4 linked regions of the Homo sapiens genome follow. The protein of the gene in region 3 purifies or fractionates together with the protein of the main gene of each other region. This does not show direct contact. Each region holds a gene or a part of one and is shown on either strand. Other genes may lie near its edges.

Region 1 (2,376 bases), on a different chromosome or scaffold from region 3:
AAAAAAAAACACCATTCTAAAAGCAATTCTTTTTCTATTGTCTTAAAAAAATAAATACTAGAAATATTTGACACAGCCAATTTTTTTTTTTTTTTTTTTTTTGAGACAGAGTCTTGTGCTGTCGCCAGGCTGGAGTACAGTGGCATGATCTCACAACAACCTCCACCTCCCAGGTTCAAGCGATTCTCCTGCCTCAGCCTCCTGAGTAGCTGAAACTACAGGCACATGCCACCACGCCCAGCTAATTTTTGTATTTTTAGTAGAGATGAGGTTTTACCATGTTGGCGCCAGGATGGTCTTGATCTGTTGACCTCGTGATCCACCTGCCTCGGGCTCCCGAAGTGCTGAGATTACAGGTGTGAGACACTGCGCCCGGCCACAGCACTCAAGTATTAAACTTTAGAGGAACTCATGTCCTGTGTAACATTGCTTGATAATCATTATCTCATAAAAATCATAAGCACCATTTTTTTTCTGGACCAGTGGGTCCGTTTTTTGAGGAATATGGGTACTTTTGAAAACCTGATGAAAGCTGTGGACCCTCTTCCCATAGAAAAAGATATAGCACATATACACAGAATACTACACAGTTTCAGAGGACTGGCAGATTCTGTTAAGTCCACTCATGGACTCCAAGTAGAACTGCTGCAATTGATCTGGAACATATTTTAACCAAATTCTTCAGGGAGGATTCTCATCCAGATTCATGGCCAAAACTATTTATACCCAGATTAGAGTGGAGTTGCATCTTATTTAGGGGGCTGGATTTTAAGTCAGTTTTTATGGAGATATAAGTCATGCAGTAAAATCCTTTAAGAAAAAATCGATTGCCGACGAAGTATTGTGTGTAGTCTGGTTCAGTAATGCTTGTGCACAGTAAAGCTTGAGAGTCACTTAGCTAAAGAAAACCAAAAGGAAGTCTGTATTTTGGGCATCTATACTATTTTGTCTTTAAGATATTTATCCAGTCCTTAGCAATGAAAGGGAGATGGGTATACAACTAATTGTTCCTGTTTATTTGCCTCTGTATCTATAGAACATATTAGTTTGTTAATATAACTAAGTGAGCCATGTTGGGGAAAGGTGATAGCATTGTACTTCATCGTCAGCCCAGACTTGATAGGAAGCAAAATCTAAATATTCAATTACTTATTATATATCTCCTCTTAGAAGCCCTATAGGCAACCCAAACTTAATGCATTAAAAACAAACCAAAACAAAACAAAAAAATTTCTTCCCACCTTCCCTAGGTCATGTGACTCCTATCTTCGTCATCATTAATGATGCCATTCAGTCACTGATATAAAACTGGAATTATTCTAGACTCCTCGTTAAACCTATGTATTAATTCTGCTCCCACTATCTGTTTCTTTTCCTTCTGTCATTGTCTTCAATTCTTAACACTTTCTCATGTTGTAACAGGTACCTAACACAGATCCCTACCTTTAGTTCCCTCCAGCCCATCTTTTACACCATCAGTGATTTTTCTGAAATGTAAATCTTATGTTATTCCTTAAAATTCTGTTTTTTTAGTGGCCCCTGTAGCACTCAGGATAAAGCAAGTTACTTACCTTTATAGACATCTGCCTTGTCCTCTGCCCTTTTCCTATTCAGTCTTTATTCTACTGCCAGAGTGTGAGATGTCAAACAGCCTATCTTTCCAGACATCTGGGTGAAATAACTTCCCATTTACTGTCTCATTCTCCTAGTCCTCCAGTAAACCTTCCCTGACCACTTCTCTCTACAATAGTTTTATGGTGGCATTTCTTATAATGTACAGTTACGTTTGTTGTTTCCTAGTATCTAGTGCAGACCTTGGCTACACTTGAGTTTGAATGCCTACTTTGGGCAAGGTGCTGAGAATGAGTATAGGTCCTTTATCTATAAACTGACTGCTGCTGGTTACCTTTTAATAATAATTACTCCTTGGTGGCTCACACCTGTAATCCCAGCACTTTGGGAGGCAGAGGCAGGTGGATCACTTGAGGTCAGGAGCTCAAGACCAGCCTGGCCAACATGGTGAAACCCTGTCTCTACTAAACATACAAAAATTAGCTGGGTGTGGTGGCAGGTACCTGTAATCCCAGCTACTCAGGAAGCTGAGGCAGAAGGATTGCTTGAATCTGGGAGGTGGATGTTGCAGTGAGCTGATTGCGCCACTGCACTCTAGCCTGGGTGACAGAACGAGACTCCATCTCAAACAAAATAATAATTACTCCTGCATTTCTTTAATAATTCTCAGTTCATAAACTATAAATAAGTTTATATTACATAAACTAGTTAGGCATTCTGAATTTGTAGATTATGTTTGCATCTAAAATATTTACACTTCTGGCCAGGCACGGTGGCTCATGCCTGTAATCCTAGCTCTTTGGG
Region 2 (3,500 bases), on a different chromosome or scaffold from region 3:
GCCAGACAAGGGCTGTGCTCAGGGGCAGCTCGGCTGGGCACACAGTAGGTGCTTTAGCGGACAGCACTGAGGCCCCCAGCAAGAAGCCCATGAGCTCCTCCCCCTCCCGCAGTGCCGCCGACATCTACATCCGGGAGTATTTCCACAGCCACGTCAGCGGCGGCCACCCCGAGGCCACTCCTCTCCGTGTGATGTACACGGACCGGCCGCTGAGCCAGACGGACCCAGTCACGCTGCAGTACTGTTGCCTGACCGACGACCGCCAGGCTTTCCGCCCGCCCACACGGGCAGAGCTGGCGCGGCACCGCGTGGTGGTCACCACCACCTCCCAGGCCCGTGAGCTCAGGGTGCCGGTCGGCTTCTTCTCCCACATTCTCATCGATGAGGCGGCCCAGATGCTGGAGTGCGAGGCCCTCACCCCGCTGGCCTATGCCTCGCACGGCACCCGCCTCGTGCTGGCGGGCGACCACATGCAGGTCACACCCCGGCTGTTCAGTGTGGCCAGGGCCCGGGCGGCCGAGCACACGCTGCTGCACCGCCTCTTCCTGTGCTACCAGCAGGAGACTCACGAGGTGGCGCGGCAGAGCCGCCTGGTCTTCCACGAGAACTACCGCTGCACGGACGCCATTGTCAGCTTCATCTCGCGGCACTTCTACGTGGCCAAGGGCAACCCCATCCACGCCAGGGGCAAGGTTCCGCCCCACCCCCGGCACTACCCGCTCATGTTCTGCCACGTGGCGGGCAGCCCAGACCGGGACATGTCCATGGCGTCCTGGCTGAATCTGGCTGAGATTGCGCAGGTCGTCGAGAAGGTGCAGGAGGCCTACAACACCTGGCCCAGCTGCTGGGGCGGCCGCGAGCAGAGGTGCATCTGTGTCGTTTCCCACGGTGCCCAGGTGAGCCCGGCCAGCCCGGGACAGCCCCCGACCGCACCCCTGCTGGGGGAGGGGGAGCTCTCCGGCTGATGGACGAGCCCCCGCCTCAGTTTCCCCATCTGTAAGAGGGGGCTGCAGTATTTGCCTCCCAGGGCTGAGGTGGGGCTCGGCCCCTGAGGTGTCTGGAGCTTGGTGGGGGTGCCGTCTCCTTGTCGGGGGTGGCCCAGTCCTCACTGCGTCCTGCGCTCATCCCCGAGCTTGGTGGGGGTGCCCTCTCCTTGTCGGGGGTGGCCCAGTCCTCACTGCGTCCTGCGCTCATCCCCGAGCTTGGTGGGGGTGCCCTCTCCTTGTCGGGGGTGGCCGAGTCCTCACTGCGTCCAGCACTCATCCCCGGCCCTGCTGCGTCTTCAGGTCAGTGCACTGAGGCAGGAGCTGAGGAGGCGGGACCTAGGCCAGGTGTCTGTCGGCAGTTTTGAGATCCTGCCAGGTGGGTGACCAGCGGGGCCAGGTGCTGCCAGCTGCCCCAGGATACCCCGGGTGGCTCGGCCCACTCCTCAGCCTGGCATCGGCAGGGGTGGGGCTGGTCCCACCGTCTTGCGCACCCAGCCTGACCTGACTGCGTGCCCCCTGCAGGGCGGCAGTTCCGGGTCGTGGTGCTCAGCACTGTGCACACCTGCCAGAGCCTGCTCAGCCCTGGGGCACTGGCCCCTGAGTTCTTCACCGACGCCCGCGTGCTCAACACCGTCCTGACCCGCGCCCAGTCCCAGCTGGTGGTAGTGGGGGACGCCGTGGCCCTCTGCTCCTTCGGGGCCTGCGGCAAGCTCTGGGAGAGCTTCATCCGTGAGTGCGTGGAGCGGCACAGTGTCTGCCCCGAGGGCCTGTCCATGGAGCAGGTCGAGCAGGGTGTGGCGCAGAGACGGCGCTGGCCTCCCCGAGGCACACAGGCTGGGGCAGCGGGGAACTGGGAGGCTGCCCCAGAGCCAGTAGGGGACCTGGCCGAGGAGCAGGCGGCTGTGGTGACGGCCATGGTGAAGGCAGAGCCGGGAGATGAGGCTCTGAGCCCAGCATCCCGTGACATCACGGCAACCACAGCGCAGACGGAGGCTGCGGCAGCACCAGCAGGAGACGCAGTGAAGGAAGACGTGGTGCCCGGGGCCTGTGCGGCAGGAGCGGCTGCTGCAGCGGGCGTGGAGTCCACGGAGGCTGAGGATGCAGAGGCTGACTTCTGGCCGTGGGACGGGGAGCTCAACGCTGACGACGCCATCCTACGGGAGCTTCTGGACGAGAGCCAGAAGGTGATGGTGACCGTCGGGGAGGACGGGCTGCTGGACACTGTCGCCAGGCCCGAGTCCCTGCAGCAGGCCCGGCTGTACGAGAACCTGCCCCCGGCTGCGCTACGGAAGCTGCTGCACGCGGAGCCCGAGCGGTACCGCCACTGCTCTTTCGTGCCAGAGACCTTCGAGCGGGCGTCAGCCATCCCGCTGGACGATGCCTCCTCGGGCCCCATCCAGGTCAGGGGCCGCCTGGACTGTGGGATGGCCTTCGCCGGGGATGAGGTGCTGGTGCAGCTCCTTTCGGGAGACAAGGCGCCCGAGGGGCGGCTTCGGGGCCGCGTGCTGGGCGTGCTGAAGAGGAAGAGGCACGAGCTGGCGTTTGTGTGCCGCATGGACACGTGGGACCCGCGCATCATGGTCCCCATCAATGGCTCCGTGACCAAGATCTTCGTGGCCGAGCTGAAGGACCCATCGCAGGTCCCCATCTACAGCCTCCGGAAGGGCCGGCTGCAGCGTGTGGGGCTTGAGAGGCTCACCGCCGAGGCCCGGCACAGCCGGCTCTTCTGGGTCCAAATTGTCCTGTGGCGGCAAGGCTTCTACTACCCGCTGGGCATCGTCCGGGAGGTGCTGCCTGAGGCCAGCACCTGGGAGCAGGGCCTCCGCATCCTCGGCCTGGAGTACAGCTTGAGGGTGCCCCCGTCGGACCAGGCCACCATCACCAAGGTGCTGCAGAAATACCACACGGAGCTTGGCCGGGTTGCCGGCCGCCGAGAGGACTGCCGCGCCTTCTTGACCTTCACTGTGGACCCCCAGGGCGCCTGCAACCTCGATGATGCCCTCAGTGTCCGAGACCTGGGTCCCAGGTGCGAGGTGGCTGTGCACATCACTGATGTGGCCAGCTTCGTGCCCAGGGACGGGGTGCTGGACGTGGAGGCGCGAAGGCAGGGCGCTGCGTTCTATGCCCCCGGCAGGGAGCCAGTGCCCATGCTGCCGGCCAGCCTCTGCCAGGACGTCCTCAGCCTCCTGCCTGGCCGGGACCGCCTGGCCATCTCCCTGTTCCTCACCATGGAGAAGGCCAGTGGCCAGCTGAAGAGCCTGCGCTTTGCACCCTCCGTGGTCCAGTCTGACCGCCAGCTGTCCTACGAGGAGGCGGAGGAGGTGATCAGGCAGCACCCGGGTGCCGGCCGTGAGCTGCCGGCCCGCCTGGACTCCGTGGACGCCTGCGTCGTGGCCGCGTGCTACTTCTCTCGGCTGCTGCGCCGGCACCGCCTGCGGTCCGACTGCTTCTATGAGCAGCCGGACGAGGACGGCACCCTGGGCTTCCGCGCGGCCCACATCATGGTGAAGGAGT
Region 3 (3,500 bases):
GCCTCCTTGGCATTGGCTCTGGCTCTAAGGCATTTTATGGTAGAGAACTGGCTGAAAGACTTCTCTTACATCCGCCAGCATTACTTATGGAAGCTGTATACCATTATTTCTTACTGCTGCTTTTGGAAATATTTTCTGAGTACTTAATACTTCATTTTCTCTTGAGCTTTGCCATTGAATTTTTTATTCCAATGATTACATCTTAATATTTTCATTTTCTTCATCTTTCTATTTTTTCTTAGTAACTTTCTGTCCTGGTTTCAAAGATTCAGTTCCCTCCTTTATTTCAGTGAGCATTTTGAACATACTTATTTTACAGTTTATTATGGATTACTGTAGCTCCATTTCTTCACAGGTAACTTTTTCAGTTTGTAGATTTCTTAGCTGTTTTTCTTGGCATTGCAGCCCCCAGTGAGTTTAGCAATTCAAATTTTAGTGTTCATCTGTTATGGGAGTTTTATATGATCCCTTCCCTGTGAAGCAGTTTCATGGTTCCTTCACACTGGCTGTTCACAGTCTCTGCTTTCAGACCAGGCCTTACATATACAGATTGCTCTATGCTTTCACTCTGTGTATATGCACAATTCTGGGTCCCTCTTCTATGTCCCTTATCTGCTAGGTCTTGGTCTTATAGAGGAACAATTTCTGTTTTTGGCAAGCTAGACCTGTCTGCCTGCAGTGCTATGTGATGGATGCAGCTCTTTAATCTCCTGCTCCTGTGTAGACAGTATTACCCCAATTCCCAGCTTTATGCTGGATGTTTAAGTTCAGCACCTTACCACTCTGTTGGGTGCTGAGAATTTAGTCCTAAAAACCCATATCCAGACTGGGCCCTACTTACCACTTTGGTTTTCCTTTCTGCTTCTCTTGTTTTGACTACAGATCTGAATATTTATTATTAATATTTCCTTTTTTTTTGGAGTGGTATGAGAGGTTTGTGCTATGCTCAGCCTTCTATCTCGACCCTAGAAGTAGAAAAATAGCTTTTAAATCCACTACAAAGAGCTTTTACTTATATAAGGTTAATAGGTGGTAGACAGTCTTTGACATGGGGTGAAAAAATCTAAAAGTTATAAAAATAAAACCAACTTGGCTGGGCATGGTGGCTCATGCCTGTAATCCCAGCACTTTGGGATGCTGAGGCAGAAGGATCACTTGAGTCCAGGAGTTTGAGACCAGCCTGGACGACATAGTGAGATCTCATCTCTAAAAAAAAAAAAATTAGCTGGGCGTGGTGGCGCATGCCTTTAGCCCCATCTACTTGGGAGGCTGAGATGGGAGGATTGCTGCAGTGAGCCGTGATGGTGCCACTGCACGCCAGCCTGGGCAACAGAGTGAGACCCTGTCTCAAAAAAAAAAAAAGCAAAGAAAAAAATTAAAATAAAAAAATAAAAACAACTTAATTATATCTCTGATACAGACTGTGATCAACCACTCTATGATTGTCCTATGTGTGGGCTCATATGTACAAATTACCATATTCTTCAGGAACATGTTGACTTGCATTTGGAAGAAAACAGCTTTCAGCAAGGTATGTTTATATGTTTGAAGATAAAAATATCATTTAATTTCTACTTTCTAGGACACATATCTAATTTTTAGATTTGTGATATGGAAAAAATATTTTAAAATACATCTTTTCCTTTAAAAGTGTTTTATTTACAAGTTGAGGCCATTTCTTTAGCAGCTAGAAGTATCTGAATATTGTATTTGGTCAGCGAAAATTGTTGAACTAGAAAACTGCCATATGGCACATAAAATTTTACAAATGAATGTGAACTATATAACCAAAACATCTTTCAGTGCATCTTGAGCTGCTTGAATAGCTTCTAAATGACTTACTGGTTTTATTGTGATTCTATAAAAGTTTTCCTTTCTCCCCTATGTTTTTTAATAGTGGCATTGTTTAAATAATCATTATGGTGGCTTAGAAGTGGAAAAATCCTATATGAATGTTAGAAGCCCACTGAACGAAAATAAAAAGTAGATCCCAAGAGAAACCAATTGTGTTTTACCCTATTTCAGTTTTTTAAGGTACGTAGATAGCTTCTGTTAAGGCAGAGGTCTTTAGTGTCCAGTATCAATGATCCTAGTACCAGTATCGGTGTTCATGGACAATGTTACTGCTCACTCACCCTAAGCCAAATATGAGATTATTGGGGCAAAGATGGAAAAGTTCCCTGCTCTGGTGGTTTCTGAATGTCTGCTAATTCTTACTCTTATTTATGATAGGCTTTGTATGAGCACGTATATTACAGTGTAAACCTATAGTGGGTAATAAGAAAAAGATATGGTCTAAGTAAATCACTGTAGATAACCTCAGGGGACACTAAACATTGAGTGTGACTTGTATATCCCCAAGAATGGAAGGGTGACCAAATAGGAAGATGTAGCAGCAGCTGAGAACTTTGAAAGGAAAGGAAGAATAGTCAGTGATATAATTAAACCATCAGGTCATGGGGTTAAGGAGACAAGATAGTGGCCAGAAGCCACTGACAAATGGATCTGGGGGACACCGAGTAGAGAAGATGCAGGATGAGATGTTGCAAAGTTTTACCATTTTTGGGGGCCAAACTGTAATTAAATTATTATCTAACACCTGCACTTTGTAAATGTGTATTTTTATGCTCTTTATTTTTTTTTTTTTCTCCCCTAGTATTTCTTTGAAAAATCAATCTGCCTTAGTTATGTTAAGGAGTATCAATGCAGGATGTTACTTAACGTTTTAAAATTCTGGTTTCCTCAGTAAATAATAATAACTACTTCATAAGATTGTTACAAAGATCAAATGATATAATTAATGAAAAGTGCTTGTCACAGCTTTAAACACTTAGTGAGGCTGGGCATGGTAGCTCACGCCTGTAATCTCAGCACTTTGGGAGGCCGAGGCTGGTGGATCACCTGAGGTTAGGAGTTTGAGACCAGCCTGACCAACATGGCGAAACTCCATCTCTACTAAAAATACAAAAATTAGCTGGGCATGGTGGCAGGCACCTGTAATCCCAGCTACTCAGGAGGCTGCAGCAGGAGAATCACTTGAACCTGGCAGGCAGAGGTTGCAGTGAGCTGAGATCGCACCATTGTACTCCAGCCTGGGCAATAAGAGCGAAACTCCGTCTCAAAAAACAAAAAACAGTGACTGTTAGTTGTCATTTAGATGGAGGTTATTCCTTACCAAAGCAGTTCTAAGTTTTGCTAAATTTGTACTCAGTTCCATATCATCACAGTCATGAATAAATGGCAAATAACAGCATTTACTCTATTTTAAAAACATATATTAAATAATAAATAATCTTTGATTGCAACAGTTATTTTATTCTGAACATTAACAATACCTAACAGGCATGGATAGAGTCCAGTGTTCTGGTGATCTACAATTGGCTCACCAGCTTCAGCAAGAAGAAGACAGAAAGAGGAGATCTGAAGAATCAAGACAAGAAATAGAAGAATTTCAGAAGCTGCAGGTACAAAGATTAATAACAATTATAATATTTTGATTT
Region 4 (4,038 bases), on a different chromosome or scaffold from region 3:
CCCAGACACACTCCTCTCTCTGCTCTGGCCCCTGCCACCCAGAGCAGGATTGAGCCAGGTCCAGGAAAGACATGCAGATCCAGCCACCAGGGCCAGAACATCAGGACCACCAGGCCAGGAAAGGAGACGCAGGGCTGGGAGAGCTGGTAACCCCCTGGGGTGGGAGAGTGGGGTCTCAGGAACTGTGGAAAGGTAGGCATTGCCCTGGGCCAGGTGGGCCTCTGCCGCCCTGTCAGAGGCTCTGTGGGGGCAAAATGGGGTCTTTTCTATTTCTACTTCACAGATGGTGTAAAAGAGGTCAAAGGAGGCAGAGAAGAGAAAGAAGAGTGGGGAGGAAAGAGTGTGAGGAAGGCAGGGATTCTCATTGCCCCAGAGCAGAGCTGCATTCAGCCATACCCATCGCCCCTGCTAGACTCAGCACCCGGAAGGCAGTACCACTGATTGAGGCCAACTTTGTCCCCTGTCCTCTACCAAGTGCTTTGTACATGCTACCTCCTGTGAGGTGGGTGTTTTCATCCCCACTTTACAAATGAAGACAAAAGTCAAGTAACGTGCCTGAGGTCACATGAGTGGTGAGCAGTCCAGCTGAGTCTTGAACCAGGTCTCACATTTCCAATGCTGAGAGCTCCTTGGCCTTGACCGTCTATGTCCTCCCAGCCTCTGAGACAGTAGGGTGTACATAGTAGGTCCTCAATCAATGCTAGTTAAAGTGAAGGAAGGAAGGAAGGGAGAGGGGGTAGAAGGAAGGGGGAAGATAAGCCAGGGAGACTCTTTGGCAGCCAGAAAATAAATAATAAGTGCTGTTTTCCAGTGCCAGGCTGGCACGGTGCCCAGGATAGCTGCCCTACACTCGGGAGCTCAAGGCCTATGCTTGACTCATCTTTTCCAGAAGTATGTGAGCCCAGATACGTCAGCCTTCAAGTATGCAGTGAGGTCTGCGGTGAGGCGCTCTCTCTTCTCTCCTGCCCCCTTGAATGGCCTTCCTTTTGCCAACTCCCCACCCCCAACCCACCCGGCCAGTCCAGCCTTGGCCCCCTCCCCAGAGCTAGGCCTGCTTTCTTTGGGGCAGGGGGCTGTGGACCAGCCCCCTAAGCAATGCAGATACCTGTTGGGAGGGAGACCTACATGCTGCTGGGGGAGGGGCGGGAGCACCCACATCATCCAACAGGTTGGTCAGGCTGGGAGGCGTCCCGCCCTCCTGCAGCTAATGAGCACTGTGCAACAGGTGTCTGCTCCTCAGTCCCCAGCCCGCCCCAGCTGTGACCAGAGCAACCAGAGCCTGCCACCCGACGCAACCCCAGGCTCACTCGCTCACCCCCCTGGGCCCTCCTGCTTCCGGCCGGGGGCACCATGGCCTGCCGCTCCTGCGTGGTTGGCTTCAGCAGCCTCAGCAGCTGTGAGGTGACCCCGGTGGGCAGCCCCCGGCCTGGAACCTCAGGATGGGACAGCTGCAGGGCCCCCGGGCCGGGCTTCAGCTCCCGCAGCCTCACAGGCTGCTGGTCGGCTGGCACTATCTCCAAGGTGACTGTGAACCCCGGCCTGCTGGTGCCCCTGGATGTCAAGTTGGACCCCGCTGTTCAGCAGCTGAAGAACCAGGAGAAGGAGGAGATGAAGGCCCTCAATGATAAATTTGCCTCCCTAATTGGCAAGGTGAGCACAAGTAGGGGGTCCCAAACATGAAGGGCTGCCAGGCCTGGGCCGGTAGCTGAGCTCTGTGTTTCCCTGAGCATCGATCACCGCGCCCCACCCCTGCACCCAGCCAATGGGGAGATGGCACTGCTAACCCGACAGGCTAGCTCTGAGCAGAGGCTGGGGGAGGGAAGTCCCTGATCCATCCTGGCATGTGGGGAGAAAGGGACCCCAGGATGGCCTTTGAGGGATGTGTTGATAATAACATGCTGCATGACCTGGGGTCACCCACCACCCAGGCAGGGACTGGGGAGGACCACCTAGTGTGGCCAGGGGTGCCCTCTCGCAGGAATGGCTGATGGAGGCATGCTCTGCGGTCCTACTCTGAGGCAAGTGGACAGGGGAGATGGCCTCCCAGGCACCACGCTCCTGTTTATCCCTCAAGCCTCTGGTCCCACAGCATCTCTCTCAGCTGCCCCAGTCAGAAAAGCCAGCAGGGTGGAGGGTGAGTGCGGGGCTGCTGGAAGGAGGTTGCTGCCCAGACTGCTGCAAGTGAGGGTGCAGCTCAGGTGTCAGGAGATAGGAATGCAGGGGACGATGCCTCGAGTCAGAACAGGGAAGCCAGTTGGGCCTTCCTGCACCCTGCGCCCCTCCTGACTGCGGGAGGTGCATCCTCAGCATCACAACCACACTTCCTAGACTCCACTACCCATGGCCTGCAACAGGTCTGGGGCACTCGTGTCCACCTCTGCTCCCAGGGCAAGGGAGCTCCCAAGGAAGTTATCCACTTCCCAAATCTGTTCTTTACTCATCTTCTCCAAGAAACTCCTCCTGACTCTGCACCCTCCTGCACCCTCAAGAATAATCATGATAGTGCCAGCTGCCATTGGTTAATTGCTTACTATGTGCCAGGCACTGTGCTGATGCTTTTCAGGTTTATCTGTATTTCTCTCAACAACCTTATGGGAGAAGACAATTTTATGTCCATTTCACAGATAAGGAAAACTGTACATTTCTGAACCTGCCAGTAAACCAGAGGTCCAGCCTTCAGCCCCTGGCTCAGTCCTTGTCTGCTCTTGGCCTCTGATTCTGTGTTCCTCTGCATGTTGCTGGTCTCCCCCATGAGGTGGGAGCTCACAGAGAGGGGCAGAGGGAAGAAAGTAACATGCATTGAGCATCTACTTATGCCTTGCCCTCTGGAGGAACATTGCAAATGCAATGAAATTCAAGCCACACTGCCACCCTGCAGTGGCTGTTATTTTCCCAACTGTGCAGATGAGGAAACTGAGGACCAGCAAGGCTAAGTGCCTTGCCCAAGATCACACAACCAGCAAATGGTAGTCTGGATTTGAACTCAGGTCTGTTGAGACACGAAGTCAGTGGTCTCTGTGGTGGGAATCTTTTCTTTCCTTCTTCCATTCATGTGCCTAGACCAGAGTTTCATCATCCACACCTGGGGTACCCCTGGGTACCCAGAGGGGAAGGACCACAGTCCACTGAGGCAGAGCATCCCTTCCCCCAGCCCTAACTGCACAGAGCCTTGCATTGCTGAGCTGGTTCTCCCTCTAAGAGCAGCCCAGCTGCCCTGGGGAGGCAGGTCCCTAAAGAGCCACCTCCTGACCAAACCCAGTTTAATCCCTTAGAAGGAATGCTTCACTGAGCTATGGAATTTGGCTCAGATGGGTGGTTTTCTCCCTCAAACGCCAGCACTGATATCACCCTGTGCCCCTGCCATGGGGATGGGAGGATATAAGCACAGGGAAGAGGCCCTCAGGGTTGGGGTCCTGTGCCCAGAGACCAGGGCAATGCCCTTGAAGTTCTTTAGCAGAATTGGAGCCTCCCAACCCTTAGCCTTGACCTTGAGATGGGGTGCCCTTCAGGGTGGGACACAGGGAGCTGTGGGTACTGGCCGTTTGGGGGCCCTGGTTGCAGGGCCCCAAGGGGCCCCAGCTGACCCTTCAACTCTGCAAAGATCTGTTAGCCCCACCCTCCTTGCCTCCTTGTGGAGGCTGTGAGGGCCCACATGGAAGCAGGAAGTGGTTAAGATGTGAAATCTGGAGCAGCATTGTGGGGTTTAAATCCCGGTCCACTACTGACCAGCTGTGTTGTCTCAGGCAGGTTATTTAACCTCTCTGTGCCTCAGCACACATTAGGTTAGCAGGCTCATTAGAATCAAATGGGAGAATTTTTGAAAAGAATTTAGAACATATCTGGTATATATTAAGTATATTATAACTGTTAAATAAAAAATGAAATAAATGGGCCTGGCCCAGGGAGCAGCTAGAACCCAGTTAGCCCCTTCCAGGCAGGAGCCTGGAGAGCAGGTGGGGAGAGGCTCCCTGCCGGATAGAGGAGTGAAGGGACTCATGGGCAGGAGGTACGGCGCAGGGCTGTTGAGCAATTATGGAC

The links. Proteins that work in one complex are often made in the same cells at the same time.
Region 1: the proteins of ZUP1 (region 3) and TEFM purify together in Homo sapiens (affinity purification with mass spectrometry, with the first as the bait; one large-scale study listed by BioGRID). This does not show direct contact.
Region 2: the proteins of ZUP1 (region 3) and HELZ2 purify together in Homo sapiens (affinity purification with mass spectrometry, with the first as the bait; one large-scale study listed by BioGRID). This does not show direct contact.
Region 4: the proteins of ZUP1 (region 3) and KRT80 purify together in Homo sapiens (affinity purification with mass spectrometry, with the first as the bait; one large-scale study listed by BioGRID). This does not show direct contact.

Annotation. Positions count from the first base shown.
Region 1 is NC_000017.11:30,900,863-30,903,238, reverse strand, and holds part of TEFM (transcription elongation factor, mitochondrial), read left to right. Parts: intron 1-2,376. UniProt on the Homo sapiens protein: Transcription elongation factor which increases mitochondrial RNA polymerase processivity. Regulates transcription of the mitochondrial genome, including genes important for the oxidative phosphorylation machinery.
Region 2 is NC_000020.11:63,564,240-63,567,739, reverse strand, and holds part of HELZ2 (3'-5' exoribonuclease HELZ2), read left to right. Parts: exon of another isoform or gene 1-89; coding exon of another isoform or gene 90-112; coding exon 113-896; intron 897-1,286; coding exon 1,287-1,362; intron 1,363-1,508; coding exon 1,509-3,500. UniProt on the Homo sapiens protein: Can degrade highly structured RNAs through its concerted ATP-dependent RNA helicase and 3' to 5' exoribonuclease activities. Shows a strong preference for pyrimidine over purine residues for its nuclease activity.
Region 3 is NC_000006.12:116,658,767-116,662,266, reverse strand, and holds part of ZUP1 (zinc finger-containing ubiquitin peptidase 1), read left to right. Parts: intron 1-1,420; coding exon 1,421-1,531; intron 1,532-1,897; exon of another isoform or gene 1,898-2,034; intron 2,035-3,342; coding exon 3,343-3,464; intron 3,465-3,500. UniProt on the Homo sapiens protein: Deubiquitinase with endodeubiquitinase activity that specifically interacts with and cleaves 'Lys-63'-linked long polyubiquitin chains. Shows only weak activity against 'Lys-11' and 'Lys-48'-linked chains.
Region 4 is NC_000012.12:52,189,215-52,193,252, reverse strand, and holds the start of KRT80 (keratin, type II cytoskeletal 80), read left to right. Parts: upstream 1-1,238; 5' UTR 1,239-1,350; coding exon 1,351-1,650; intron 1,651-4,038.